Linked DNA regions of Homo sapiens: regions 1 and 2 are each linked to region 3. The links come from fine-mapping of genetic effects on gene expression. A gene starts in region 3. Each other region holds a variant in brackets. All regions are shown on one strand. Distances are between the middles of the regions. Region 1 overlaps ZNF71 (zinc finger protein 71). Region 2 holds the start of SMIM17 (small integral membrane protein 17). Region 3 holds the start of ZNF71 (zinc finger protein 71).

Region 1 (10,512 bases), 27 kb before region 3:
CCCTGTTAATGTATGTAGCTCTTTTATATAAATATTTAAGACTCTATTACAAATATAAACTTTCTATTAATAAATAATAGTATGTATAATAAAATATTATTAGGGCTGTAAGGTGTGTGTTGGATAGTGCACCTGCTTGACTCAAATCACTCATGTTCATGGCCCTACGCCTGGCCTGTCAGGGGTCATAGAAAAGTCTGTGATCTTGGAGAGGATCCCTAGCTCATCTCATGTAATTTGGAAACTGCCACCACACTGGGATTCTGCAGGAAGACCTTCCTCCTCTCCCCCATATCTGAGGCTGTGAGCTGAGGCCCAGCCTCTCAGTTGGACCATTCTCAGCCCAGGAATCTGCGGCTGCCAGGGGCATCAGTCCACCCAGGAGGCCCCTTCATCATGCTCTGGGGCAGGCGCACTGGGTTCCCGGGTACTGACTGGGATTCCTACAATAAGATGGTGTCCAGGCAGGGAGGAGCAGAAGGGCCTTCCCTCTGCAGCCTGGGTCTCCTGAGGCTGCCCCTCAGCCAAGATCTGGGCCCAGAGCCTTCTCCGGCTGCCCATGCTAAGGCCAAATGCAGGGGATTATCTCTGGCTAGAGCAAAGATTGTATGAACAATGCCTTTTATTTTCTGATGCTTTGACATTTTGAAGCCTTGCCGACCTTGGAGGGACTGTCACTCCCAGATCCAGGTGATTCCTAGAGACGGCAAAGAATCCCCTTGAGAGCGTGCCTTTCACAAGCAAACCACCCAATCCAGAGCCCACACCCAGCACCTCCCCAACTGGGCTCCCACACTCAGGGGCTCTGTGCACCTGCCCTCATCCAGGGCTGAGAACCAGACAACAAGGGCAGCCCCTGTGCCCCAGAACCGCTAAATTACTCAGAGAAGCCAATCCTGCTCCTTGCTGTGGAAGCGACAGAGAAGCTCCTGCCCCCGTCTTCCCCCAGCCCCTCCACCTCCTGACCTGCCCTGGGCTTCCCTGTGTGGCCTGGCACTGCCCTCGCCTCTCAGGAACTGTAGCAACTCTCTTTTCAATCCCTGGTGTCTCCTGACCTATGGGCCTCACCTTCTCAGAATAAGAATAAAACCTACATTTTAAATCAGACAGGGGCAGTGGACAAAAGGCTGAGGAATCCAAGTCAGATCCAGGTCTCCAGGGACTATGTTAGGTCCAGGGTGGAATGGGCTGCTGCCTCAGAAAACTCACTTGCTTATTCGTGATTCAGCCGGGAAGCATTTATTGAGCACCTACCATTAACTCTTTCATTCAACGGACATTTACTGAGCACCTACTATCTGCCTGTGCCTGTGCCGTGCCAAGTGCTGGGGAAAACAACAGTGAGCAGAACCAGCAACATCCAGATCTCTACCTGAATGCCCGTGATGGAGATGGATGGTAAAGAAAGAAAACAAGTATCAATACAGACTGCAGTGCGTGTGATGGGGAATACGAAGCAGGGGAAGAAGGGCGATCAGGGAGGGCCTTGTTATCAGTTAGGGTTCTCCAGAGAGGCAGTAGTGATACAACTTAATATAGTTATATATGTCCTATCATATAGATTGCCTTATTTAGATCATATATATCCCATATAGATATATCATATATATGCTATTATATATATTATGCATTTATTATATATACATTATATATCTCATATAGATTTTTTTTTTTTGAGACAGAGTCTCATACCATCGGCCAGGCTGGAGTGCAGTGGCATGATCTCAGCTCACTGCAACCTCCGTCTCCTGGGTTCAAGTGATTCTCCTGTCTCAGTCTCCCAAGCAGCTGAGATTACAGACACATGCCACCATGCCCGGCTAATTTTGTATTTTTAGTAGAGATGGGGTTTCACCATGTTGGCCACGCTGGTCTCAAACTCCTGACCTCAGGTGATCTGCCTGCCTCGGCCTACCAAAGTGCTGGAATTACAGGCATGAGCCACCTTGACTGACTGACCTTTTTTTTTTTTTAAGAGAGAGTCTTCCCTTGTCACCCAGGCTGGAGTGCAATGGCATGATCATACCTCACTGCAACCTCTAATTCCTGGACTCGGGCAATCCTCCCACCTCCGTCTCTTGAGTAGCTGGGACCACAGGCACACGCCACCACACCTGGCTAATTTTTCTAACGTTTTGTAAAGATGAGGTCTTGCTATGTTGCCTAGGCTGGTCTCAAACTCCTGGTCTCAAGTAATCCTCCCACCTTGGCCTCCCAAAGTGCTGGGATTACAGGTGTGGGTCACCATGCCCTACCCTATATATATCTTATACATATCCTTTTATATACCTCATATTTCTTGTTATACATATGGCATATGTATACTTTTATATATAAATAGATTTAATTTAAATAACCGGGTCATGCTACTGTGGGAGCTGGCAAGTCCCAAATCCATAAGGTAGGCTGGTAGGCTGGAAACTCAGGCCGGAGTTGGCACTGTAATCCTGAGGCAGAGTTTTTTACTCTCCAAGAAACTGGTTTTGCTCTTAAGGCCTTCAACTGATTAGATGAGGCCCACACACATTGCAGATAATAATCGTTTACTTAAAGTCAGCTGACATGGGTGACATCCACATCTATAAAGTGTCTTCTCAGCACCACCGGGACTCACTGCGATGGGCCTGCTGGGCACTGGAGCCCAGCCAGGCCGACACGTGAAACTGAGCATCAGGGACCTGAGGAAGCTCAGCGTGGGTGCTGGGCCAGGAAGGGAGAGGCCCCTGCGGTGGGAGTGGGCTGGGCCAGCGCTGGGACTGAACGAAAGCACAGTGTGGCTGAAGCAGAGTGAGCAGGGGGAGCGGGACGGGAGCTGGGAGAGGCTGCGTCACACAGGGGTTTGTGAGGAGTTTGGCATTTACTCCAAGTGATAAAGGGGTCATTCAGACCCCACCCAGCACCCATGACCTCTACCTCAAGGCCAGGCTTGGGTCAGGCCTGGGGACACAGGGACACAGGGACACAGGGCCCAGTGAGGGTGAACTCGAAGGCCAGCACATAACCCCAAATAGTGCCTTGGACAGATGTATGGGATAGAAGACTTGTTAAAAAGCAGGTTCCTGACCTGCTTGATCCCTGCCAAACCCACATTTTCAGGGGGGTAAATTTAATTTGGCTTCAGTAAGTACCTGACTGAGGAACTGGTGGGTGGAGTGGTGCCGTGGACTGCAGTCCAGCTTCTGGAGTCAGAATGGGTTTGAATCCAGCAGCTGTGTGACCTTGGGCAGGTGCCTGAACCTCTGCGAGCCTGTTTCCCCATCTGTAGAGTGGGGGTGATGAGAGCGCCCCCTCAGAGTTGGACAAGTGACTCCGTCAATGTGGCCATTATTCCAGCCACCTCAGGGTTCCTCTTGGGGAAACGTGGAGCCCTGAGTGGGGAGCTTGCCCAGGAGGCGGGAGACCAGGGATGTGAGACCCACCTGGTACCACAGCATCCCCCCAGAGGAGCCTCAATGCCCTCCACATCAGCTTGGGTTGCAGAGAAAAGAAACAGGAGGGACCTGAGAGGTGGCCCGGCTGGTTCTCTGGATGGGAGAGGGGGATGGTGGTGGTGCAGCCTCGATCCCATCTCTGCTTCACACACTGGGGAGTCCAGGAAACCAAGGCCAGGAGTCAAGTCCTGAGAAATTCAATATGTCCATCTCTAGAAGTAGTCCAGTGTAGGCAAGGAGCACGGACCTCGGAGCCCAGGTGGACCCCAGCTCACACCCTGTCCCCTCCACTTCCATGTTGTGTGCCCTCAGGAAGCTTACCTTGCCTCACTGAACCTCAGATTCCTTATCTATACGACATGCACATGAATCCCTACCTCGAGGATCTTGTGAGGGTTAAATGAGCCATTTCATCTCTCCAAAGGGCCTTAGAAGGTCTTCCCCTCCATTTTGCTGCTAAAGAGTAGTAAAATCTTGTGTACATATTAGCTAACATTTGTTGACTGTTTTAACACTCCATTCTCTGCAGTGCATACATATTCTCATTTATTCCCACAACAGATGCAACTAAAGCAATGTCTGATCAAGACTCGCTGCTGGAAACCACCACAATCCCACGTGGGAAGCCAGCCTGAGGATGATGTTAAGAAGTATGAAGGGAGAGCCAGAGCATCACAGAGAACCACAGCTATGGCTCCAATGATGAGAGCCTGAATCAAACCCACCCTGAGGCCCACTTGACTGCCAGAATTTGAAAAACGGTCCACCTTGTTTATACGTGCCCGAGTGGCTGTTTTTCTTATTTGCAGAATGTGCTTGCTGATATAATTTTTTTTCTGTATTATTTATTTGTGTACACCAGTGTCAGGGAGTGTGGAACAACTGGAAATGCCAGAACATTAGCAACCAGTAGTATCAAATAACAAAATTAAAAGTATGGCCTAAAAGGCCCCAGAGAAAGTGCACTTTGGGGAACACTCTTATGTGTAAACAGAGCTTCAGTCGGCCTTAGGAAACTCACTCGAAGTTACTGATATGGTCTGTTGGTGCTTCCCTGTATTCACATATTGGAAACTTGATCCCCAATGTAACAGTATGAAGAGGGAGGACCTTTGGGAGGTCATGAGGTCAGGGCCCTTGTGACTGGGATTAGCACCCTTATAAGGGGCCTGAGGAAGTCTGCCGTTTACAACCACGTGAAGACACACATCAAGACACAAGCACTACCTATGAAGAACATACCCCATCAGACACCAAATCTGCCAGAGCCTTGATCTTGGACTTCCCAGCATCCAGAACCATGAGTGACAAATTTCTATTGTTTATAAATTACCCAGTCTAAGGTCTTTTGTTACAGCAGCAGGAAGGGACTTAAGACAGTTGCCTTCACATTTAGCTGCAAAAATCACTATAAAAATAATCTGTGCTCAGATGTATATACTTATTGAATCCATGCATATTTCTTTCTGAATATCAAACCTGCTGCTGTTTCTTTTCCTTCTTGCCCCTCCCACAATCACTGAAGCCGATTTTGACCAGACAACTGGCCAAAACAGAAGACTGTTTAAAATAACATAGTCTCCCTTAATTAAAAGTTTTATTTTTAAAAAACGTAACAGACCACTCTAAGAAACTTTGGCATTCAAAGCAGTAGTTACTGTTATTTGCTAACTCTGAAAAAAAAATTTTTCCCCTCACAAACAACCGGCAAACTCCTGCCACTTCCTAGCTTGGTGGCTGCCAGCGTGCACTGCAGGGAAACGGTGGGTGGAGGGATAGGAAGGCCCTCACGCTCCCAACCCACGGAGAAAATGCAGATGGTGACAAGCTGCATCTGGACTCCAGGATGTATCTGACAAAGAGGGAGATGTCTCCTCCCTCCCCTCCACCAGCTCCACTTTCCCGCTGAAGAAACAGAGATGTGGAGGCAGGCGTGACCTGTCCCAGCTCTAGGACAGTTACTCAAGAGGGCTAGTCTGGAACCCTGATGTCTGTTACCAGCGGCCATGGCTCAGCTACAGTGAACCTTGAAGTGTCCCCAGATACGTCAGACACCGAGGGGCTTGCTTTCTGAGGCTCAGTAAGGAGGGGGCATGTGTGATCAGCCAGCCCCTCCACAAC[C/A]CCACATTCCTGAGCTCCCCTGACCCCGAGTCCCCACCCCAGGGGAGAACTTCTCACAGCACTGCTGACAAAGCGCGCAGCCATCTGGCGTCCGTCCTGGGCACCGCCAGTGAGAGCCCTGCACAGAGGCGCTCAGGTGTGAATCCGCAGGTGGCGCGTCAGGTTCGTGTTGCGGCTGAAGGTCTTCCCGCACTCGCCGCATCGGTAGGGCTTCTCGCCCGTGTGGATCCGCTGGTGCACAGTGAGGGAGGAGTTCTTGATGAAGGACTTCCCGCACTGGCCGCACCTGTACGGCTTCTCGCCGGTGTGGATCCGCTGGTGCTCGATGAGGTAGGCGCTCTGGCTGAAGGCCTTGCCGCACTCGCCGCACACGTAGGGCTTCTCCCCGGTGTGCACGATCTGGTGCACGATGAGGGACGAGCGCCCCGTGAAGTGCTTCTTGCAGATGTAGCACTCGTAGGGCTTCTCGCCGGTGTGGATGCGCTGGTGCTGCGTGAGCGAGGAGTTCTTGCTGAAGGCCTTGCCGCACTCGCTGCACTCGAACGGCTTCACGCCGATGTGGAAGCGCTGGTGCTGGATGAGGTAGGAGCTCTGGCTGAAGGCCTTGCCGCACTCGCCGCACACGTAGGGCTTCTCGCCGGTGTGGTTCCTCTGGTGCAGGGTGAGCGAGGAGCTCTTGTTGAAGGCCTTGCCGCACTCCTTGCAGGCGTACGGCTTCTCCCCGGTGTGCGTGCGCTGGTGCTCGGTCAGGTGCATGTTCTGGCTGAAGGCTCGCCCGCACTCGGGGCACACGTACGGCTTCTCCCCGGTGTGCGTGCGCTGGTGCACGATGAGGTGCATGTTCTGGCTGAAGGCCTTGCCGCAGTCCCCGCACGCGTAGGGCTTCTCCCCCGTGTGGATCCGCTCGTGCTGGGTGAGAGAGGAAGTCTTCCGGAAGGCCTTGCCACACACGTCGCACACATACGGCTTCTCGCCCGTGTGCGTGCGCTGGTGCACAGTGAGGTTCATGCGCTGGCTGAAGGCCTTGCCGCAGTCCCCGCAGGCATAGGGCTTCTCGCCCGTGTGCACCCGCTGGTGGATGGTGAGGGACGAGCGCTCGATGAAGTGCTTCCCACAGGTGTCACACTCAAACGGCTTTTCTCCCGTGTGGATCCTTTGGTGCTTTATCAGGGACGAGCTTCGGCTAAAGGCCTTGCCACACTCGCTGCAGTCGTAGGTTTTCTTCTCCTCGCAGGGCATGGGGGGCTTACTGAGGTCTGAAGTGCTGGAGAAGTTCTTGCCACGCCTTACGGGTGGACAGGCCCCCTTTTCTGTGGGGTCGTCCAGCCGTGGTGGGACCAGGACACAGCCTTGGTTGGCAAATGCCTTCAGTTCATGACATGCGGGTACTGAGCCCCCTAAGAGTTTGTTCCCCTGGGGAATTCCCAATGGCTCCCACTCTGCACCTGCATCTCCCCGCGGCCTCTCTGGCCAGCTGCCTGGTTCCCACACTCCTTCTGAGCCAGGACCCCTGGCACCATTCCTCGTGGGTCCCCCCGTGGCCTCCCCAACAACGGAGAGCTTGTCTTCCGAAATGTCATTCTTTGGATCCAACTCTTTCATTTCAGGTCTAGTCTCCCAGTCTGAAAAAAACAAAAACAGAAGATGCAAATACATGTAGTTAAAGATGCTGGGAGTGAGGAAGCTCCACAGCAGGAAGGAGCAAATGAAACCGACCCCAATGAGGCCCAAGGCACAGAGCGAGTTAGCAAAGAAGAACCTTGGATCAGAGAGGGAGGGAGGAGGGAGGCATGGAACTGAGGCCAATGTGGTTTATGAAGCAGAGTCAACACAGGAGGTGAACAGGGAGAGCAAATGTCCCTTCAGAAGAGGGATGACAGGCACTCCTGGAGAGAAACTGCAGTAGTGAGCTGGGCTTGCAGGGAGCAAAGGGCAGGCTCTGCAAACCTGAGTAGGAATGACTGCAGCCGGCTACTGACTTGCAGGGCCTCCTCACTTCATCCTGCAGATCCACAACCAGTCGTGCTCCTCAAGCAACAGTTTTTATCAGAAATAATAAGATGGCCAGGCACAGTGGCTCATGCCTGTAATCCCAACACTTTGGGAGGCTGAGGCAAGGATTGCTTGAGACCAGCCTGGGCAACATAGTGAGACCCCCCACCCCCGCCTCTACTAAATTTTTTTTTAAAAATTAGCCAGGCATGGTGGCACATGCCTATTGTCCCAGCTACTTGAGAGGCTGAGGTGGGAGGATCACTTGAGCCCAGGAATTCGAGGTTGCAGTGAGCTATGATCACGTCACTGCACTCCAGCATGGGTGACAGGGTGAGACCCTGTCTCTTAAAAAATAAATAAATAAATAAATATTGAAAAAAGAAGAAAAAGAATAAAGAAATAATAAATAGCTAGCATTTATATGGCATGTGTTGGTTATTCTCTACTCCTTCGACCCACTTTCTATTCTCCACCCTTCTCTGACCTGCCCTGTGCTCAGGATGCTGACTTTGCCCACTGGCTTCCTGTGTGTTTGGCCAAAGGCAGGAAACTGGAAGTGAAATGAGAGAAAAATCGGGCATTTCTCCTGCCCCTTTGCCACTTCTCTGGTATGGCTGCCCCAGGGTTGCTGGCTGCAAGATCCTCTCCCCTGGCTGGGGCTCCGGCTCCCGCTAGCTCATCACGCACCTGCCCTGGCTGGCCCCAGCCCTCCCGCACCCCAGCCCTCTCATCAGCCTCAGCACTAAGTGTTCATACACACAGGACCGCTCACTTGAGCCCACAATAATCACATGACTTGGGGTCTCACAATTGCTTCTGTTGCTACGTCACACGCTGCCTAGTTCTTGGGTGGCAGGCATTCCGTGGAGCTTGGGTTCAGACCCTCTTTCTCTGCTCATCCACCCTCCCTGGCTAAATACCTCTGTGCCCACAGCTTCAATCACCTTCCACGTGTATCCTGTTCATTTCTAAACCTCGATTTCTAGCCTAGGTGGAGTCTAGACTCTGCATCAGGGGACTCATTCCCAGCATTTAAAAGTTGCTGTCCATGTGGCTGCTAGCTCATAAAAAACATGAAGATATGGCCACGTGGAGCCTCATTCTTATGGGCAACAAGACATTGCATGGGGCAGCAGCTGTCCCCCTCCTCCACATAAATGATCCACCTGGTAGTTCCTGAGGCCACCTGAGTTTGAGACCACTCTCCTGAATCACACTGGACCTTCAAAGCCACACAAAGTGAGTCTGGATCTAAACGTTATCCACAGGCTGATGCTGCTCAAACATACACCTTCAGCCCAGACCTGCTTTCTGGGCTATGTCCAAACTGTTCAAAAAAGCCCAGCATCTCAACTGGATAGCCCAAGCCTAACACATCCGATACGAAACTTGGGATTTCAGACTTTCCCCATGAAAAACATTTTTTAAAAAAGCAAAGCCCATCAAAGAGACTTAGTAAAATAAATCAGACATGAAAGGATGGATGCCATGTGATTCCACTCATCTGCGGTACCTGGAGGTCGGATTCCCAGAGACAGACGGTAGAACAGAGGATGCCGGGGGCTGAGGAGTGGGTGGGAGTTGGTGTTTAATGGGGATAGGGTTTCATTTGCGGGAGATGAAAAGAGCTGTGGGGATGGATGGCGGTGATGGCTGCACAACAACATCAATGTCCTTAAGGCCACTGAACTGTACTCCTATAAGTGGTTAAAATGGTACATTTTATGTTCTCTATATATTTTTCACAGTTTTAAATATAAAATTTAAAAAATTGTTTTAGAGAGACTTAGCAGACATCCTGACTTGCCCTTTCCCTCCCACCGTCCTGACTGCTGGCAAGCATTGCTGTGCGCAAACAGCCTGAATCAGACCAAATCTCCCGGTCCCCACTGACAAAAAGCCGGCTGGCCACCACGGGTCCTTGCCTGAAATGCGACAGCAGCTCCTCTCTGTCCTCCCCACCCCATTCTCACCCCTGCAATGCGTCCTCCACTCCTCCGGGAGTGCGGTCTTCTGAGGAGTCAGATCAACCCTCCCGTGACCTCCCTACGGTACTGAGAATGATGCCAGGACCTCCAGCAGCCTCAGGGCCCTCAGCACCCAGCAGGCCTGCCTGAGTCGTCCCCTGCCCACCCTCCCTCCCAGTTTCTCATCACCATGCTCTCCCTCTTGTCCGTGTGTTCTTCCTGCCTCAGGGCCTCTGCATCCACTGTCCTGTGGACCTGCCGTGGACGTCCTTATCCTTCAGGCCTGTTTCCCCACAACCCCACGGGAGCCTTCCCAATCCACCCTACGTAAGGAAGGAAGGTCCTCCTGCCCACTTCTTTATGAACACTCAGTGACCTGTGGCAATTTTTCTCTGCCTGTCCCTTGATCTGATTATTATCGGCCCCCAGCAGGAGTCAGCTCCACTAGAGGCAAGGGCCTTGCTCACCCCCCAGCTCCTCACACAGCCTGCACACAGAAGGTACCAGATAAGCGAGTATGGAGCACTGGCAACACGCCTGGCACAGTGCTGAACAATTTGCACGGATCTCTGGAGACCCTCACAATCATACTTGAGTTACATACAGTAGTAGATAGTTATGACCATCCTCATTTTGCTGATGAGGAAACGGAGATACAAGAATGGAGTCAGAGATGTACTCGAGGGCACAATACACCTGAGGCACAGCAGGATTCAAGCCCTGGCAGTGTGGCCCCCGAGCTGTGGCTCCTGAGGAGTGGCTATATTACCATGCATCACTTTTCCCATCTCAGAGGAAAAGAACTGAGAAATACTTCATGCAGGAGAATGATTGTGGTTTAGAGACCCTAGTCAGGGTGTGGCACAATGCCCAGATGCTGGCACAGATGGTAGTGTGGGGTGTAGACTCGGTGGAGAGAAGACTGTCTCCAGGGGTGATGGTGAATTTTGTCTGGGGCTGATGGAGTCTGAGATGCTCTGGAATATGAGCTGGCAGCT
Region 2 (10,512 bases), 44 kb before region 3:
TGGATGAGTGAAGGAGTGAATGTTTAGTCTTTCCCTAGGCTCTGCCAATTCCTTCCTCTCCACCCACTCACCTCCCAAAGGACCCCTGCCTCTCACCTTTCTCATCACTGTCATGGCTGGAGGCCCCAACCTCCACAGCCTCCCAGTCTTTGGTGCAGGCGGGATGAGGAGGCTTCTCCCAGGCCCGGCTCTCCCGAGGCAGCAGAGTCTTGGTCCTCTCAGGCTCCAGCAGCCCCCGTGTCTGCTCAGGCCTGAGACTCTGCATTGCCCCAGGAGGAGGTGGAGCTTCTGAGACAAGCTTCTCTTTCTCCTCCTGCTCCAGGGTCCTCTCTGGTTCTCCAGGCACAAGATTCAGAACCTGAGGACTGATGGACATTTCATCATTCAGTGAATCATTACAGAGGGCCAGCAGGGGCTAGGCACGACTGTAAGCATTAGAAATACAGCAGTAATCAAGTGGAGATTCCTGCCCTCCTGGGGCTTACATTCTAGTAGGGAGACAAAGAGACAGGCAGGGAACAAATAAAGCACACAGCAGGTCAAACGCTAGAGGGTGCTCTGGAGACAAAGCTGGAAAGGGAGTGATTGTCATGGGCAGGCACATGCAGACACACACACTCACATACTCCCATATACACACATACAAACATAAACACATCCACACATACACACACACAGACACACAGTCACATACACACACACTAACACAAACACAAACACACACACATCCACATTCACACACACTCACATAGACTAACACACACACTCATACACACTCACAGTCACACACACTCACATTCATACTCACACACATACACACTCACATACTCATATACACACCTACAGCCACACATGATTCTCCAGTCTGCACATTTGTATATAACAAATGGGATAGGAAACGACATGAATTAATAAATAAATCAGCCAGGCGAGGTGGCTCACACCTGTAATCCTAGCACTTTGGGAGACCAAGGTGGGAGGGTTGCTTGAGCCCAGGAGTTTAAAAATTAGCCAGGTGTGGTGTCACGAGCCTGTAGTCTCAGATATTGGAAGGATCCTTTGAACCTGGGAGTTCAAGGCTTCAGTGAGCTAGGATCGTGCCACTGCACTCCAGCCTGGGTAAGAGAGAAAGACTCTCTCAAAAATCAATCAATGAGTCAATCAAGAGGACTCTTTTACTGTCACTTTTCTACAAATGAAAATTAAATATAGGTCCAGAGAAATACTTCTCTATTGTAAGGAGCACATGAACAAATGGCAGTGGATATATGGCATGGGGAGAGACGACGGAGGCAGTGGGGAGTGGGGCAAGAGAGATCAGGTCTCCTGTCTGAAGAAGCTGCACCATGCAACTCAGCTAATGTCTGCAGAGCAAACGCATGGGACTGGTGTCGCCCATCCTGTGATTTCTCAAAAGAAGACTGGAAATCTATATTTTCAGATGGCATTTTCTACATTTCATGATGTCAATAATTATTTCCAGTGTTTAACAGGAAGACACCTTTAGTCAAATAGCACAAGTTGTGGGGCTGAATTAGACCCTGGGGTTGCCCATTTGCAACCTCAGTGTGGGCCGGGGAGTCTGTTGGGAGTGAGGAGAGGAGGCTGCCTAGACATTTTTCAGGGCAAGAAAATTCCTATGGGACCTTCGTGGGAAAGAGTGTTAGAGAGTACCATTAGGGAGTTCTGATTTGTTTATTGCTTTGGGGTTTTGCTTGGCTTTGTTTTTAATATGAGACATAATTAATCATGGATCTAGGTTGAGGGGAGGGGAAGGCATGAGAAAGGAGAAAATGCAGGCAAGCGGGGTGACAGATGGGAAAGACGACAGCCATCAGGTCAAGGTCAGGAGAAGCTGGATCCGCAGTGAATGGAGGAGGAAGAAGGAAAGGGGATGAGACAGAGGTATGGTGGGGGGAGGAGATTCACACCCCACAGCCTCAGTGTTCATGGTGAAATAGCAAACAAGTCATCCCCTGAGAGAATGGAGACGCAGTCACAACAACGACAACCAGCAACCACAGTAAAAGCAATAAAAATACCGGCAGTGTTTCCCGGAGCCCAGAACTCTCCTTGTGCCCAGCCCTGCTGAGCCCTGCGAATCCCTTTTCTCACATAAAGGTGGCCATACTTCTCGCTACAGATACTATTAGGTTTCCATTTAACAGACAGGGAAGTCCCCTGATCAAAGCCACACAGCTCAGAAGAGTGGGGGCGGGGCTGCTGCACCTGTTTGCTGAGAGCCTGCGCTCCCACCGTTGCAGGGTGGTCCACAGGGGCCCAGGCGGACACACAACGCGAACACGCACAGGTGCACACTCGGGCAGGTGCGCTGAACACCCCAGGGGGAGCGAACATCGACACCAAGCCCCAGCGAGACGAGCGCACGTGCCCGTGCCGCCCCACGAGGGTACACAGGTCTGTGCTCCCCTCCTCACGAGGAGGCTGGAATTCACCTGCAACCCCCAAGCCAGGACACAGACCTCCGCTGCGGAGAAACAGACCCGACCCCGACAGACCCCGGTCCTCTCCCACCGGACGGGCTTGGAGACGCCCTCTCCCCGGACCCTATCCCTGGAGCGGTTCTGCCCCTCACCCTCGCCCAGGCACACACACCCTCTGCGCATCCATACTCGCGCGCGCATCCCCGGATCGCCGCCCGCGCCCCCAGCCCCTTTTCTCCGCCTCCTTCCCGCCCGCGGGGGTCCCTCGAAGGACTCACCCTCCCCAACCGGACCCTGTCTGGGCTCTGCAGAGCTGGCGCCGCACTGACTGCGGCTGCGCAGACGCGGAGGCTGCGGGGGGGTGGGGGGAGGTGGGAGATGGGAGGTGGGGGAATTGGGGAGCGTGGGTGTCCTCCTCCCCTCCTCCACCCCCGGGAAGCCTGCACCTGGAGGCGCGTGGGGAAGGGAGTGGATGAGCCGCAGAGGCGGGGTACCCGCGGCGTGGTTGCAGGGGGGTGTGGTACCGAGCTGGTCCATCTCTAGCTGATGAGCACGTAGGTTATGTTCGAGGTACCCTGCGACAGACGCCCCAAGGCCAGCGGCTTTGCGTACGCCCCCCGTGGTTCTCCAGTCTGCAAACCGGGAGTCCGGGGTGGGCGGAAGGGAGAAGGAGCTGGGGCAGGGGGTGGCAGCCCGGGGACCCTGAGGCCCGACCGCCTGGGGCAGCGGCTGGCTTTGCCATTTGTTACTAGTGAGTCCTCGGGTGTGTTACTTAACATTTCCGTGCCTCGGTTGCCCATGCTGTTAAGTGGGAATAATTATGGTTACCAAGTCCCAGGATTTCTGTGAAAGTAAAACAATAATAACAATAATAAGTAATACACGTACAGTTCTTACAACAGTGCCTAATAGCTGCTATTATTATCAATGACCATTGTTGTTCAAATTTACAATGCAGTGACTACAGCCAAGTTGCTCTCATGGAGGCTACATTAAATTTTTAAAATTTTCGGCAAAGCCATAGGTAGGGGGAAAACGGCGTCCCTGCATCATCTTAGCTACATTTCCCTGATTACTAGTGAGGAGAATTAAACACATGTATTTGAACAGGCTTATTCTCTCTTCTGTGAATTACCCGTTTATCTCCTCCTCTCCGCATTGTTCTATTTGTTTATGTAGCTTTTACTTACTGATTAATAGACATTCTTTCTATATTCTGCACATTAATCCTTTGCCTGTTACTCTATCTGTGGCAAATATTTTCTCCTGGCTCCTCCCTTATGTTTTTATTGTGTTTACACAGTGCCTGAAGTTTTGAATTTTAATAAAAATACAAGATATCCTTTTTATTTATTTATTTATTTTTTGCTTTTAGGGTCTTAAGATGCCCTTCCTCAGCCTTGTCTCTCCCTCTCTTCCCCGCCCCTCCTCCCCCTCCTTGTCTCTTTGAGACAAGGTCTTACTCTGTCACCCAGGCTGGAGTGCAGTAGTGTGATCATAGCTCACAGCAGCCTTGAACTCCTGGCCTCAAGTGATGCTCTTGCCTCAGCCTCTTGAGTAGCTGGGACTGCAGGCATGTGCCACCACACCTGGCTAATTTTTAAATTTTTTGTAGAAACAGGGTCTCACTATGTTGCCCAGGCTGGTCTCAAACTCCTGGCCTCAACTGATCTTCCCAGCTCAGCCTTCCAAAGTGCTAGGATTACAGGCATGAATCACTTCTCCTGGCCTCCCCTTACTCTCATAAACACATTTTCCTGTATAATCTTATATTTTACAGTCTTATTTTATATATTTATTTTGTTTGAACCTTCTGGAATTTTTTTGAATGGTATGAGGTAAGGATTTAACCTCCTTTCCCTAATGGATAGAAAATTGAATTACCCTGGTTATTCAGAAAAA[C/A]AAAAATAACTGTCATTTATCAAAAAAATACTACAAGGAAAGCCATCTCGTTAATATTATCTCATTTAATTCCAACAGCCCAAAGTGGTAGTATTATTATCCCCATTTAACAGAGAAGAGAACTGAGGCACAAAGGAGTTAAATGAGTTGTACAAAGGACACACAGTAAGATTATGGAAGGACTGAGATTGGGTTTGCCTACGAGTTTTCAGATAGGTTATGTAATTGGGATGGGAAACTTTCTTCATTTCTATGTTTAGAAGATGAGTTTCCTGCCATTCCAAAGATAGTTCAGAGTGTGCAGAGAAGAGAGATGAAGTGTCAAGAATTAGACATTTCATCCAATCCTCATCACCTCCTTTGATAACAAGACATTTAGTGCAGGAGACCAGGTGAGCTGCCCCAGGTCACAGAGTCTTGAGAGGGTTAGGAACTGGGCATCCAGATGCAGATCTAACAATGTACTAGCTGTATAACTTTGGGAAGTGAATTAACTCGGTCTCAGTTTCCTTACCTGCAAAATGGGGACAATAATATTTTCTACCTCATAGGGTTAGTGTGAACATCATATAGGTTAATACATATGCCTCCTAATTTTGAGTGCTCAGTAAATGTCACTGGTATTATCATTATAATTATTGAACAGCAGGTCCTCAATATGGGGTAAAAATCTCCAGTTATGATCCTGATAGTCCAGATGAATTATGGTTGTTTCAAAATGGACTCAAGTTTGAGGGGCTTCCCCAGAATTCTGAGGGAACAAATTTTTTTTTCTTTGAGACGGAATTTTGTTCTTGTTGTCCACACTGGAGTGCAGTGGCACAATCTCGGCTCACCGCAACCTCCGTCTCTCGGGTTGAAGCGATTCTCCTGCCTCAGCCTCCCGAGTAGCTGGGATTACAGGCTTGCACCACCATGCGCAGCTAATTTTTGCATTTTTAGTAGAGATGGGGTTTCTCCATGTTGGTCAGGCTGGTCTCCTGACCTCAGGTCGTCCACCTGCCTCGGCCACCCAAAGTGTTGGGATGACAGGCGTGAGCCACAGTGCCTGGCCGAAAGGAATGTTACTGAGTGACCCCTTAGAGGTGATTTCTTCCCTAAACAGAAGAAAACAATGAAGGGAAAGTGTCTGGAATCCTGTTTTATGTCTTTAATGTTTCTCAAACTTCAACCTCTCAAACACCCTTTTTCAATGTTTGCCCTGTTTCTGCAGCAATGAGTAACATCTTCATGATTGCTTTCATTTACACATAACATCCCTGCATTCCTATTTACTTAATATTTTTATTTAAAATGAATTCATTTTCTAAAACCATTTAAGAAGTACCTTTAAATGGAAACTTTACAGCACTCCTATAAGTGGAAAGCCAGTTTCAAGTGCCATAACCTAAAAGGGAAATAAAATCACGATTAAAAAATTATAGCTATATGCCACCACTACGTGTGGTAGATTGAATTATTGGTTCCAATTCTTCATTATCCTACTGTAACATAACACATTCTCTGTCTTGCCATAGCCTCATAGCAAGCCAAGGGCTGGAGTACAGATGTGTTATCCCCATGGGCCTTTTCCCTTTGTTGATTGTGCTTTGTATACTTTCACTGTAGTAAATCATAGCCGTGAGTATGACTATGTGCTGAGTCTCTCTTGAGTCCTCCTCCCAGGAAATCATCAAACCTGCGGATGATCTTGGGGACCCCAACACAAACCCTGGACCACAATTTTACCAGGAGGTAAGTGCTGTTGACATCTTTTTGGGGCTCCATGACTAGCCAGGAAAAGAAAAATTAATGCAGGGCTGAGAATTCATCCACTCATTCATTCATTCACTCATACAACTAATATTTATTAAACAACTGCCATGTGAAGATGCTGTTCCGGGTAGCTAAGGCAACTGATGTCTGTGGCCTAATGGAGCTTACATTCTAATGATGAAAACAGACAGTGTCAAGTAAACCAATAAATGCAAAATGAAATATAGTTTGTGCTAAATTCTGTGAAGTACTAAATTCTGTGAAATAAATCACTGTGATAGTAACTTTGAAGCCACTTTAGGTGGGGATGGTCAGGGAAGGCCTTTTAGAAAAGGTCATATTTTGAGCTAAGGACCAAATGGTGGAAAGGAGACAGTTATAGTTGAATCCACACTTGAATGAGTTCAGCACCATGGACAGAGCACACCAGAGGCAAAGGCCCTGAGGAACCAACAGGGAGGTGGTGTGGCCAGTGTGACCAGGAAAGCGAGAGTGTCATGGGATGTAAGATAGAGAGGCGCCCGGGCGCGGTGGCTCACTCCTGTAATCCCAGCACTTTGGGAGGTTGAGGTGGGCAGATCACGAGGTCAAGAGATCAAGACCATCCTGACCGACATGGTGAAACCCCGTCTCTACCAAAAATACAAAAATTAGATGGGCGTGGTGGCACGCGCCTGTAGTCCCAGCTATTCAGGAGCCTGAGGAAGGGGAATCGCTTGAACCCGGGAGGCGGAGGTTGCAGCCGAGATTACGCCATTGTACCCAGCCTGGGCGACAGAGTGAGACTCCATCTCAAAAGGAAAAAAAAAAGATAGGCATCCAGAGTCATGAAAGCCACAGGAAGATCTTTGAATTTTATTATAGGTGTATTGGAGATAGTGGCAGGTACTGAGGAATGGTATGATAGACTCTGGTTTACATTTTCCAAGGCTCACTGAAACTGCTGTGTGGGGAATGCACTAGAAGGGGCGGTAAAGTAGGAGGATCACTTAGGAGGCTCTTGCAGTAAACCAGGTGAGAAGCGACGGTGGCCTGGAGTAAGGCAGTGGCAATGGGGATGGAGAGCAGTGGGTAGATTCAGGATTTGCTCTACAGGTGGAGCTGAGAGGACTCACTAATGGGTGGAGTGCGAGGTGTGACAGAAAGAGACGAATCAAGGGAGACTTCTGGGCTTTGGGCCTGAGCAACTGAGTGCCCTGAAGTGCCCTAAGTGAGATCAAGTTTATTTTGTGGGGAAAATCCAGAGTTCCCTTTTGGGCATATTAACTGTTGGATGCCTGCATTTCTGAGGTCAACTCCAGAAGAGCCTGGATTACCCAGATAGCCCCATCAGAGTCTCCAGAGGTGAAAGTTGCAGAGGGGGCTCAGGAATCAGCTCAGAAGAGCGTCTACATCTAGCACAGGTGATGGCGAAATGACACTTGTTCCTATCCATGTTGCAGAACCAGTCCAGCAGGGCTCTTCGTGATACCGGAAGAGTCCCAGCACAGGCTACCCTGCGAGGCTGGGGGGAACTGTCCTGCGAGCCTGGGGGGCTGCCTGTGGTGCTGAACCATTCTGGCCTGAGCCGCCCGGGGTTCTGATGGATATTAGCGGGGCTATCCGTGGTGCTGAACCACTTCCAGCAGGGCTGTCCGGCGAGGCTTGAGCTGTCTGCGGTGCTGAACCATTCACATCACGAGCTGCCTTGGGGGCTGTCCGTGGTGCTGAATCTGTCTGGCGTGAGCTGTCCGCAGTTCTAAACCATTCAAGCATTAGCGTTCGGTGGTGCTGACGCTCTACACAGAATAGCTGGAGAAGACTTTTTTTTTTCCCCCTCCTTCAAAGAACCCATCCGCCTGGGGAAAGCCCTGCTGTTTCCTGGAAACAAAGATCTCTGGGCTGTAGAGATCATGGGATGAAAACAGATGAGGGCAACAACTGCAAAGTCATTTTTAAGTGACAGCTTTTGTTCTTAGGACAGCAGGGCCTGGCTGAACCGGATTGAAATTATTAACATGAAGTTTCCCAAAAAGCTCTGAAGAGGGGGAAAGTACAGAAAGGAAATTCAGAGAAAGGTATGCCCCGGATTCAGGCTGTTGGTTATTCTGGGTTGGGAGAAGCAGTGGAGTGGGGAGGAGAGGGCTATATAAATATATGCGAGTTATTGGCAAAGCCCTAGGTTTTTTTTTTTTTTTTTTTTTTTTTTTTTTTTTTTTTGAGATGGAGTCTCGCTCAGTCGCCCAGGCTGGAGTGCAGTGGCGCGATCTCGGCTCACTGCAAACTCCGCCTCGCGGGTTCACGCCATTCTCCTTCCTTAGCCTCCCGAGTAGCTGGGACTACAGGCACCCGCCACCACGCCCGGCTAATTTTTTTTTTCTTTTTTGTATTTTTAGTAAAGACGGGTTTTCACCGTCTTAGCCAGGATGTTCTCGATCTCCTGACCTCGTGATGCGCCCGCCTCGGCCTCCCAAAGTGCTGGGATTATAGGCGTAAGCCACGGCGCCCAGCCGGCAAAGCGCTATTTTTTATGTTGCAAGCTGGGGTCACAAGAGGGATGTTATTGTAGATTTACAGAAATGCAGCATGGCTACAGTTTCTCATGCTTCCAAATACAACCAATCACATACATTGTAAACTGTGACTGTTATTTTAGTGTCGCTTTAGCTGGTGAATAGACACACCCACCATCTTTTTGTCAGGGTTAGTCTTGAATTATGTGGGTTTTGAATTGTACACCCTCTGCAAGAGTGAGTCCTTCACAAAATCAAATCTCTCTGGAATTGTTGAATGGATGAATAAGTGTTCTTCCCAATGATCTGGTCACCAGAAAAGGCACAGCTTCCACAATCACTCAAGAGACAGACATTCATAAAGCACTCACTACGTGCTGGACATTGCAGGTGACACCCAGTATGCCTGAAGCATATCCTGTATGCCTAATAGGATGATATTCACAACTTTTCAAGGGCCAGAGAGCTTTGAGGCTCTGACTTTGAGCTCTTTGTTTACCTAGAACCACTGTGATATGGCTCTTCACTATCTTTCTATTATGTCCTCTAATGGAGTTGCTGGCCCAGTGAGTTTTGATATTTCAATTTCTCAAAATAAGCTGGAGCTCATTACTTTATGAATATTTCTTTTTGCTTACTGTCTGCCTTGTTTCTAAAATGGTACAGACCCATGATGGTAGGGGCTGTGTGTTTCTAATTTACCTCTGAGCCTCCAGAACCTGGAACGTGTCTTGGCACATACCAGATGGCCCATGAATGTTGTTTTGAAACAGTCGAATGAATGAAAAACGGTGTTTGTAAATGTAAACTATCTCAATGTTTTAATGATGGTAATTCATTAAATTAAAAGGAAAATGAGTGACGTGACCTGAACTGAACTGTGCTCGTCAGTTGGCAGGATGAAGTCTATGATCTGCCAGATCGAGACATCCAAGATCACAGACCCCTGTTGAGTAAGACTTTGCCATAAGACCACTTCATGGGCCAGTGACCTGTTGTTCTATCCTCTGGTACATCTGCTGTGGCCCATAAGGCAGGGTTCTGTGGCACCAAGCAGGGAATCCTATCAGTAGGGACCATCCCACAAGGAGAGGAATCTATTTCATGCTTTTTGGCAACTGCAGGGAATTAATCACATTGTGTGGATGTATCTAGTGTACGTGGCCATCTCCAAACTGTGATCATTTGGGAGCCTCGGACACCCTGGGGCAGGTCAGCTTGTAAATGGCATATCCAGGATTAAACCCAGAGCGATATGTCCCCAAAGACCTTCTTGTTTCACTACTACTAAAAAATTTTCCATTTATTTAAGGTGGGATTGCAAGGGGAAGAAGTATGATTGAAATGGGAAAACTCACCTTGTTATTTAAAACCTAGAAGGATACAATCACTTGGGGGTGTATGGGGTAAATCATACAAGGGCAGCGAGCTGTCAAGTCTGCTTAGAGAAACAGGTTCTCCTAGCCACTTCCAGCCCACAGGGCTTTTCTGCAGTCTCGCTAGAAAAATGATTCCAAAGACAGAATCATTATAAATCAAGTAACATTTATTGAGAGCTTAATGTGTCCTCACCAAGATCATGTTGGTTGAGTGTTGTTATTATACTCATTTTACAGAACAAAATAGATCATCGTGGATGGATATGAAAAGGTCTCCAAGACACATCATTTCATGGGAGGATGGGGGAAGCAAGTTGCAAATCTACAGATGCAGTCTGACATGAATGACGTGAAAACCCAGCAACACATAAAACAATGTCGATATTTTCTGTGGGCACATAGATATGTCTATAAAGTCTTCTCAAGTTAAAAACACAAAAGGTATTTAAAAGAAAAAAAATCACAAGATTACCAGGCTTACCAACATTACATTTGTTCTTTCATGATAAAAAAAAAAAGCGGTAATAATATTAAATGATT
Region 3 (10,512 bases):
ATCAGGGCAGACACAGCCCCAGAAGATGGGACTGGGGGCCTTGGAGAGGGTTCGAGCAGCAGAGGCTCACCCAAGGCAGGATCCAGCCTTTGGAAAGGAGAGTGACAGGGCAACATGACTCACCAGTGCCTCATCAGTCAGCAGCTGAGCAGCCATCCCTCTGCTGCCCACGGTGAATAGGAAGACAGGCCTGCGGTGACCAACAGTGCTGTAGGGAGAAGAAAGAGGGAGGCATGCTGAGAGACCAGGCCTAGGCTGGCCTCACAAATGTAGACAGGACAGACACACACCCACTGAGAGACAAGCAGAGACAGACAGATAGACACACATACACATACATCAACAGTGAGTATTTAGAGGGCTTACTGCATGTAGGGAACTTGAATGTATATCACTTGATCTTCCAACCATCCTGGAAGGTAGGTACTACTTCTACCTACCCATTTCACAGATGAGGAGGCTGAGGCCCGAGGAGATTAAACCACTTGCTCAAGATTACAGAGCTGGGACTGGAGTCAGGCAGAGTATGTCTGGGTCCACAGCTTAGCCTCCAGGCTACAATGCCTCACAGATGCACTCCCATGTACACTCCTATAGATATGGTTAACACACATACACTCACACACATTCCCGCAGGCTGCTGAGGGCCACCGGACACCCTGCCTTCTCCCAATGGCCCTGCCCGGATCCCTCCTTGAGTGTGAGTGCTGGACTGAGGCCCCCTGAGATGCCCCAGAACCACCTGTGGCCTCTTTGGGCACTTCCCCCAGACTTCATGGGGTTACCATGAGGTTCAACTAGCAGATATGAGTGTAAGGAACTTCCACCCAGGGGCTCTCAGAGCCAGATTCGCCTAGAGAAATGCATCTTGATTCAATTCTCCTCCAGTTCTCCTGACAAGCTCAGGATAAAGTCTCAAGTGGAGAGATATCTTAACATCCCTGCAACCCATCACTCGCCCCTTGAAACAAAAGAAAAGCAGGAGAATAAGATCCTGTGATTTGCAACAACATGGATAAAACTGGAGGTCATTATGTTAAGTGAAATAAGCCAGGCATAGAAAGACAAACTTTGCAAGTTCTCACTTGTGTGAGCTAAAAATTAAAACAAACTCATGGAGATAGAGACTAGAATGATGAAGAAACCTGAGGCTGGGAAGGGTAGTGGAAGGGTGGGGGGAATGTGGGGATGGCTAATTGGTATTAAAAAAATACAGAGGGCCGGGCGCGGTGGCTCACGCCTGTAATCCCAGCACTTTGGGAGGCCGAGGCGGGTGGATCATGAGGTCAGGAGATCGAGACCATCCTGGCTAACAAGGTGAAACCCCGTCTCTACTAAAAATACAAAAAATTAGCCGGGCGCGGTGGCGGGCGCCTGTAGTCCCAGCTACTCGGGAGGCTGAGGCAGGAGAATGGCGTGAACCCGGGAAGCGGAGCTTGCAGTGAGCCGAGATTGCGCCACTGCAGTCCGCAGTCCGACCTGGGCGACAGAGCGAGACTCCGTCTCAAAAAAAAAAAAAAAAAAAAAAATACAGAGGGTTGCAGTGAGCCAAGATTGCACCACTGCACTCCAGCCTGGCAACAGAGCGAGACTCCATCTCAAAAAAAAAAAAAAAAAACAAACCCCAAAAAAACAAAAAAACACACACACAAAGAATGAATAAGACCTACTATTTGACAGCACAACAGGGTGACTATGATCAATAATAATTTAATGATACATTTAAAAATAACTGGCCGGGCGCAGTGGCTCATGCCTGTAATCCCAGCACTTTGGGAGGCCGAGGCGGGCGGATCACGAGGTCAGGAGATCAAGACCACGGTGAAACCCCGTCTCTACCAAAAATACAAAAAATTAGCCGGGTGTGGTGGCAGGTGCCTGTAATCCCAGCTACTCGGGAGGCTGAGGAAGGAGAATGGCATGAACCCAGGAGGCGGAGCTTGCAGTGAGCTGAGATGGCAACACTGCACTCCAGCCTGGGTGACAGAGCGAGACTCCATCTCAAAAAAAAAAAAAAACAAAACACTAAAAATGTAATCAGATTGTTTGTAACACAAAGGATAAATCCTTGAGGTGACAGATACCCCATTTATCCTGATGTGATTATTACACATTGTATGCCCGTATCAAAATATCTCATGTACTCCATAAATATATAAACCCACTACACACCCAGAAAAATTAAAAATTAAAATTAAAAAGAAAAGCAGGGTTCAGGCCCCAAAGTTAGGGTGACCATAATATCTCATTAGAACTACCTGGCTTTACTTCAATTTGTTTTAAAGTTTGTTTCCCTTCTTACAGCAAAACTCAGCTTCTTTTACAGCAGTCACACAGAATACCCTTTTAAACTAAGTTGATTTAAATTAAAAACAAAAAAAAAATCAGTGAGCCAAATCAAGTAAATGGCAAAGTAAAAAAATAGGATCCATGACACAGATGAGGACAAATTCTTGGAGTCTGAGACATGCTGGCTCAGTCCTGGCTTCTCCCGTGATGGGGGCTCACTACCCGTGCCACCAACACCTCTGACTGGAAATGAGTTTTTCTTCTGCTATAAACAGAAACATGCCTCTCTACATCTCCAACCCTTCAAGATCACCCAGAAAAGCCTCAATCCTCTCCAACACAATGCTCTTGTAGCTGGTGCACCAATTCTCAAAGTACCAGAATCACTGGGGATGCTTATTAAAATCTCACTCAGAATATATATTCCTGCCCCCCACCTCAGATCCTCTGAATCAAACTACCTGGGTAGGGCCCCTGAATCGGTATTTCTAAGCAAGTTTCCCAGGTGATTCTGACACGTCTTAAAGCGTAAGAACCACTAAGACAAAGAAGAGCCTTTCTTAGGCCAAATGGCCCCAACTTCCACAAGTGAAAAGTAATTTTAATTGTAGGGGGGCATATATATAAGGCCAAGTTGGCAGAAGCCTTTGGAACTCAATCGGGAACAATTCTGCCCCCGGAGACATTTGTCAACGTCTAGAGACATTTGCCAAACTGTCATAATTTGGCAGGGGAGTGCTATGGGCGTTTAGTTGGTAGAGACTGGGGATGCTGCTACACACTGTACGATGCACGCGACAGGCCCCACAACAAAGAATGATCAGGCCCAAAGGTCAGTAGTGTGGAGGTTGAGAAGCCCTGTTGTAGAACAAAAGGATCACAAAGGTGTGGGCTGGGGGTTCCTACCACTTAATGCCTGTACCCGGGCACCACACCTGGCCAACTGTAATCACTCAGTGAAAATGTCCTCTGGGCTAAAACTCTTCAAAACTCTTCGTTGGCTTCCCCCACCATTAGAAATCACTCAAAGTCTTCACTGCTGCCCACATAGCCCTTATGATGTGCCCCTGATGGCCTCTCCCCTTCCATCTCCTCTACTCCCCTCTCCCATGCTTGGCCCCAGGCCTCCTGGCCTCTGCATCTGCTGTTCCCTCTGGAGGGAATGCTCTTCCCATGACTACCCCTGCTTCCTGGTCAGCTCCAACGTCACCTCCTTGGAGAAGTCCTCTACCCCCAATCACCTGACCTCAAGCAGCAACTCTCTCCCCCTCTATTTTCTTGCAGTACAAACCACTATTGACAACTGTCTTTTTTAAAATAGTTGTTTTCAAGTTTGTCATCTGTCTTCCCTCCATGAGAACAGAAGCCCCCAGGGAGCAGGGATGATCACTTTCAGATTGTATTTCCGACATCTAGGACAACGTCTAACACACAGGAGGCACTTAGACATCAAGCTGAATGAACAGATGAGCTAACTTCTAGTGCTGGCCAGGATTGAAAGGAACAGGCCCTCTCACACACTGGTGAGGGAATGTGAGTCGCTCAACATTTTTCTGGAAAGTGAGCTGGCAATACACAAATCCCATAACCCAGCAACCCTGTTCCTGGGAATCTGCCCACACCAATAAAAGCTCCGTGTAAAAGTTACATATAGGAAAAAAAGATATTTATGGCAGCATTGTTTCTAGAGGCAAAAAAAAACCCTGAAAACAAAATTAATAAACATTACTAAAGGAATCAAATCGAGGGTAGGGTCTCCATAGTATGAAGTATCAGGTCGCCTCTGCGAAGCAGAGTTAGTTCTGCATCTGTTGACATGTCTGTGGTTTCACTAAGTGAGAAAAGCAAGTTACCCAGTTTTATGCATACCTTTAGCCCCTTTGTGAAAAAACAAACCAAAACATGTGGATGTGGACACATCTGTACAGCATCTTCCAGCCTGGGGAAGGCTGTGGAATGAGGCTGGGTTGGTGTCTGGAGGGCATGGAGTGGGAATGAGAAGGGGGTAGAAGTTATTAATTATTTTTTCTTTCTCTTCCTTTGAATTGTTTCCCTGGGTGTAGAAACTTCATATTACCATCAACATTTTTGAAACACAATTTAATATAAAAAAAAATTCCTTGCAGATAGTGGTCTCTTTCACCCCTGTCCTGTGAGGTCAAGAACACTGGCCCATTTTGCCAGATCACAGCAGTGACCAGAGCCCACTTACCCAGTAGGCACAGAGCATGGGGCCCATGAAACCTTTAGGGGCCCATAGGAAGGTCTTAATTTCTTTTAAAATCATAAGAAAATATCTAATCCAGCCTAGATTACATTTGTCTTCCTATTAATGAAATAACAAAATGTAATTTTTAGTGCTTTAAAAAAACAATGGAGCAAGGGGCCCATGAAGGCAAAGTACCCTTAAAAATCATGCAGCGGCCCTGGAAGTGACTTGCCCAAGAGTATGGCCAGTGGCTGTTGAACCCAGTTTGGCCTTAGATCTGGATTCTTCTTCCTCTGAGCTTTTTGGCATTTCCTTCCTTTCTTCCATTTCCATTGTTTCCAAGCGGGGATTCCCTCGGGGAAAATCCTGCAACCTTGTGTCAGCTGAGCGGAAAGGGAAAAAAGGGATCTCCCATTTGTCTGGTGGTTAATTGTGGGGGCTCTGGAACCTGGATGCCTGAGGTAGCCTTGGGTGAGTCACTTAGTCTGAGACTCAGTTTCCCCATCTGTAAGATAAGGATGATGATGGTCTCTACCTCAGAGTTACTGGGACATCTATAAATGGCCAGCACTGGCTGCATACACATTCCCTGAACAAATCAACCTCTCCTTGGTCAGAACAGAGTAGGGCACAGAGACCCTTTGGGAGTCTGATCCCACTTTAAGAAGATCCTGTGGGAGGCAGAAGAAACAGCCTTCCTTTTCCCCTCCTCCACCCGGCCCCTGTCACTCCCAGGCCCCTACGCCTCCAGAGCCTTCTATGGGCAGGAAAAAGCCAGGGAACTGTGGGCAGGCAGACTAGGAGAAGCGTAGGGTGAGAAGGTAGTGGCTCTGCTAGGCTCCCTTGTCCAGGCATATAGTCTTTGGAAGAGGCACACCCAGACGCACCCACCCCTGCAGAGTCACACGCAAACATCAAGAAATACTCTAGACACAGGTGGACACACAGAGATAGGAAAGATCCAGACAGGACTGGCCCCTGGAAAGACACAGCCCTACACTCATGCCAAGAGACATGCATGGAAAGAGCAGACATAGTGGACACCCAGAGGGCACCCTCCCACAGAGACACTCATGGACAGAGATCAAGGCTGACACACCCACAACACCAAAGACAAGGACACAGGCAGTCACTCAGAGATATCACCACACATGCATAGGCAGAGACCTGGAGAGACACAGCTCCACAGAGAGACCAAGACTCTGAAGAAGTGGGACACACACACACACACGCTACCACACATGACCCACACGGACATACATGGACACATTCACATTCATTCACAGACCCAGCCTCTGGACGACACGCAGTTTCTCTCTCTGTCTCATACACACACACACACACACACACACACACACACACAAACACACACACACAATCACAATATCCAGAGACACAGCCATACCCTCAGGACGACACAATCTGTCTCACACACACATACAGACCCACACAGACACACACACAGACACATTCACAATATCCACAAAGACACAGCCTCATCCTCAGGATGATATGCACTGCCTGTCTCTCACACAGGCCACCTTCCCCCCAGGATGGCCCTCGTGTTCATGCAACTTTCCTACCTCCAACCCACTCACGCCTCTCCCTCCCTGGCCCCGGCCTCTCCTCAGCCCCTCAGCCTCCAGTCAGCCTCTCCTTAGCCCCTCAGCTTCCCCTCAGCCTCTCCTCGGCCGCTCAGCCTCTCCAGGCGCACCTCGGTCCCGGCCTGCACGCCCTCTCCTGCGCCCGCACGCCCTGGACCAGCACCCAGCCCTGCACTCCCCGTACCTGGGCCTGCACGCCGTCTCCCCGAGGCCGCGCCCTCCCCGGGGCCAGGTTCCGGCCCCCGGCACAGGTAGAGGGTGGGCGCGACCCCGCAGCCACACTCACCGGCTCGCCGCTCTGCCAGGACAATGACCGCGCCCGCTAGGCCCGCCCGACGGCAGTGCGCCTGCGCGGACTGCGCCGGACTACGCTTCCCAGAAACCCGCGCGCGCCACCTCCCCCCGGCTTTTTTCAGCCGAGCCCAGCCGAGTGGAGCCGAGCGGAGCCAACTGAGCTCCTCCATCTCACAGAGGACTCCGCGGCCAAGGAGGCTGGGGCGAGAGGGAGGATTGAGGGGGAGGAGGCAGGGAAAGGGAAGGAGAGAGAAGAGACGGAGGGAGGAAGGGTGGAAAGAAAGACGGAGGGAAAGGAGGGGCGAGGAGGAGGGACAGGAGGGAAGGGGGGAGGAGGGAGAAAAGAAGTAGGAGAGGTGGGAAGAAGGATGGAAGGGGAGGAGGGATGGGGAGGAGCGGGGAGAAGAGAGAGGATGGAGAGGGACTTGGGGAGGAGAGCTGGGGAGGAAGAAGAAGAGATGGAGAAGGAGGAGGGGTTGGAAGAAGGATGGAGGGGAAGGAGGAAGGGCTGGGGAGAGACTAAGGGAAAAGAACAGGTCAGAGAGGAGAGGAACCAACAGAAAGAAGAGGGAGCGGGTGGGAGGAGGGAGGGGCAGGGAGGCAGGAAAGGAAGAGAATGGAGACGGCAAGGAGGAGAAGGAAGAAAGGGTGGAAAGGGGGATGAGAAGGTGGAAAGGACTATAAGGAAGAAGAAAAGGGTGGGAAAAGGAGGAAAGAAAGAGGAAGTCGAGTTGGGGAGGGCAGGACAGGCTGAAGAGAGGAAAGAATGGGTAAGGAGAGGGAGGAGGGAGGAAGGAAAACAGAAAAGGACAAGGGATGGGTGGAGGCAGAGAAATGAGGGGGATAAAAGAGGCGTGTCACATCTGCTGCAGACATTTCTGCAGTCCAGCCAATGGACTGGCCTGAGGGACCATCCCAGGCAACTTTAAACCTGATAATCATGCTTATCTTTAAAGAACACTTTTTAAGCATACAGATGTGCAAAGAAGAAAATGAGCATAGGTGTAGAATAAAATGTATAGGAGACTATCGGTTTGGACTGAGTTCCTGCACTAGGCCCAACAGATCAAATCGAAATGGAGCTACTCATGCTGAAGTTCCAGGCCACCAACTCCAACTAAGTTGTTACCTGACCTCCTCTCAGGAGAGAAAGAGAGAGATAATAGCCAAGTCCCAAACAGGCCAGTTTAGCAGGCATGATAAAAGAAATCCCCTTTGCTTTAACCATGATAGGGAAAGTAACTTTGAAATGACCCATCCACTCTTGTTCTCTGTTTCTGCTTTCCTCAGCCCGTTTCTGTGTATGAAGCCATATTCCTCTGCTTGGATCACCAGAACACTAGTTCTATTTTATAGAAGGAGGTGTGGCTGGATTCTAGAATTGCAAATAAAAAACAACTAGATCTTTAAATGTCAATTCCCTATATCTTTAGATATAAGAAAAAAAGCATTAATCCTTGTTGTGAGTTTCCTTTGTTCTGACCCCTGGTCTCCACATTTTATGATTTATAAACAATCTTCACAGCCAAGCTACTTTCCAGATTAGTTGGGTAATACAGACAGGGGAGCTTACACAAGAGGAAAGGTAGGAACCAGATGCCTGGCTGAGACCCTTTTCTATAGTAAACCACAAAGCCAAGTTTAAAAACATTTGCTGAATGTCCAAGTGGCCACAAAACCATCAACAGCAGCTAGCCTTAGGTGGTGATTAATGATGTATTTAAATGAAATATTTTATTCTGAGATAAATGTGGATTTATTCACGTCAGGTTGTAAAACATAATATAGAAATCATACAGAGAGACCTATGTCTCTTAGGTAATTTCACCCAAGGGCAACATCTTGCAATATCACAAGTAGGATACTGACGTCGGTCCATTCAAGAGACAGAACATTTCCATCACAAGGATCTCTTCCGATATTTCCACAAGGATCCTTCATCTTGCCCTTTTATAGCCACACTCACTTTCCTCCAGACTCGATCATTAGTCTATCCTCCATATATACAATTGTGTCATTTCAAGAATGTTATACAAATGGAATCATACAGTATGTGAATGGTGGAATTGGCTTTTTTCATTCAGCACAATTCTCTGGAGATATATTCAAGTTGCTGTATAGAGAGAACTTAATTATCTTGCATAACAGAAACTTTATACTCGTTGAGTAACGTCTTCTCACCTCCCCCAGCCCCTGGAAACCACCATTCTAATTTCTGTTTCTATGAGGTTGACTATTTTAGATTCCACATGTAAGTGGAATCATAAAGTATTTGTCCTGTGACTGGCTTCTTTTACTTAGCATAATGTACTCAAAGTTTATCCATGTTGTCGCATATGACAGGATTTCTTTTTCTAGGGCTTAAAAATATGCCATTGTGTGTGTATGTGTCTGTGTGTGTCACTTTTTTTATCTGTCCATCTGTCAATGGACATGTACATTGTCTTCATCTCTTGGCTATTGTAAATAATGCTGTAATGAACATGGAAGTGCATTATTCATTGCAACCTCCTGGAGATCTCCTTGAGATCCTAGTTTCAATTCCTTGGCCATATACCCAGATGGGGATTGCAGGAATATATGGTAGTTCTACTTCTAATTTCTTGAGGAATCTCCAAACTGTTTTCCAAGAAGCACCACTACTTTGCATTCCCACCAACAGTAAACAAGGGTTCCAATTTCTCCACAGCCTAACACGTTATGTTTGTTTGTTTTTTTTTGAGAATAGCCATTGTAACTGGGATGAAGTAATATCTTGCTGTGGTTTTGATTTGCATTTCCCTGATAATCAGTGATGTTTGAGCATCATTTCATATACTTGTTGGCTATCTATATGTCTTCTTTGGGAAAATGTCTACTTAAGTCATTTGCCCATTTTTAAATCGGGTAATTTGTTTTTTAGTGTAATTGAGCTGAAGGAGTTCCTTATATATTTTGAATATTAACCCCTTATCAGATATATGGTTTGCAAATATTTCCTCCCAATTAGTAAGCTGCCTCTTCCCACTGGTAATTGTTTTCTTATTACAGGATTTTGTGTGAACATAACTCTTCATTTCTCTGGGATAAATGCTCAGTAATGTAATTACTAGGTCATATAGTATGTTTAGTTTTCTTCTTAACAAACTGTCAAACTGTTTTCCAGAGTGGCTGTACCATTTTACATTCCTGGCATCAATTTATGAGAGCAGTTTTTCCAAATCCTAGCCAGATACCCAGGAGTGTGATTGCTAGATCATATGGCAAGGGTATGTTTAGCTTTGTAAGAAATCACCAAACTGTTTTCCAAAGTGCATACCCACAGCAATGAATGAGAACTGCTGTCCACAATCTTGCCACCATTTGATATTGAAAGTTCTTTTTGGATTTTAGTCATTCTAATAAGTGTGTAGTCATATCTTGTTGCTTTAATTTGCAATTCCCTAATGACATATGATGGTAATATGATGGTAAGCATCTTTTTCCATGCTTATTTACCATCTGTATATCCTCTTTGCAGTTTTTGTTAGATCTTTTGCCCATTTTTCAAGTGCATTGCTTTCTTATTGTTGAGTTTTATGAGATCTTTGTATATTTTGTATGTAAGTCCTTTAGCAGCTATGTGTTTTGAAAACATGTCCTCCCAATGGTGGTTTGTCTTTTAAGTCTAACAGTATTTTTTCACAGAGAAGTTTTTGTTTGTTTTTTGTTTTGTTGTGTTTTGAGACAGAGTCTCCCTCTGTCGCTCAGGCTGAAGTGCAGTGGCACGATCTCAACTCACTGCAACCTCCACCTCCCGGGTTCAAGCGATTCTTTCACCTCAGCCTCCCGAGTAGCTGGGATTACAGGCACCTGCTACCACACCTGGCTAATTTTTTGTATTTTTAGTAGAGATAGGGTTTCACCATGTTGGCCAGGCTGGTCTCGAACTCCTGGCCTCAGGTAATCCACCCGCCTCCAGCCTCCCAAAGTTCTGGGACTACAGGTGTGAGCCACTGCACCCGGCCCACAGAGTAGTTTTTAATTTTAATGAACAACTTATAAATTTTTTTCTTTCATGTATTGTGCTTTTTTTTTCTTTTTTTAAATTATTTTGGATTGTGCTTTTCAATCTTGTATTTAAAAACTCATTGCTAA

The links.
Region 1: its variant is fine-mapped to the expression of ZNF71 in esophagus muscle (GTEx, PIP 0.96).
Region 2: its variant is fine-mapped to the expression of ZNF71 in monocytes after interferon gamma (Fairfax 2014, PIP 0.95).

Annotation. Positions count from the first base shown.
Region 1 is chr19:56,617,930-56,628,441 of GRCh38, reverse strand. It overlaps ZNF71 (zinc finger protein 71), which reads right to left. Exons shown (of 4, transcript NM_001370215.1): 4 at 3,956-7,174. The coding sequence ends at 5,685. The region is part of intron 2 of ZNF71-SMIM17 (ZNF71-SMIM17 readthrough (NMD candidate)); the gene reads right to left. Among named protein-coding and RNA genes, the nearest start is that of SMIM17, 20 kb to the left of the region's middle. The variant C/A (reference allele first, on the strand shown) is at 5,553.
Region 2 is chr19:56,635,421-56,645,932 of GRCh38, reverse strand. SMIM17 (small integral membrane protein 17) reads right to left here and starts at 2,774. Exons shown (of 4, transcript NM_001193628.2): 1 at 2,723-2,774; 2 at 97-365. The coding sequence starts at 265. It overlaps ZNF71-SMIM17 (ZNF71-SMIM17 readthrough (NMD candidate)), which reads right to left. Exons shown (of 5, transcript NR_163263.1): 3 at 97-365. RefSeq lists silencers at 7,629-7,840, 7,638-7,932. The variant C/A (reference allele first, on the strand shown) is at 4,347.
Region 3 is chr19:56,591,203-56,601,714 of GRCh38, reverse strand. ZNF71 (zinc finger protein 71) reads right to left here and starts at 6,413. Exons shown (of 4, transcript NM_001370215.1): 1 at 6,287-6,413; 2 at 124-208. The coding sequence starts at 156. It overlaps ZNF71-SMIM17 (ZNF71-SMIM17 readthrough (NMD candidate)), which reads right to left and starts at 6,413. Exons shown (of 5, transcript NR_163263.1): 1 at 6,287-6,413; 2 at 124-208. RefSeq lists a silencer at 6,062-6,451.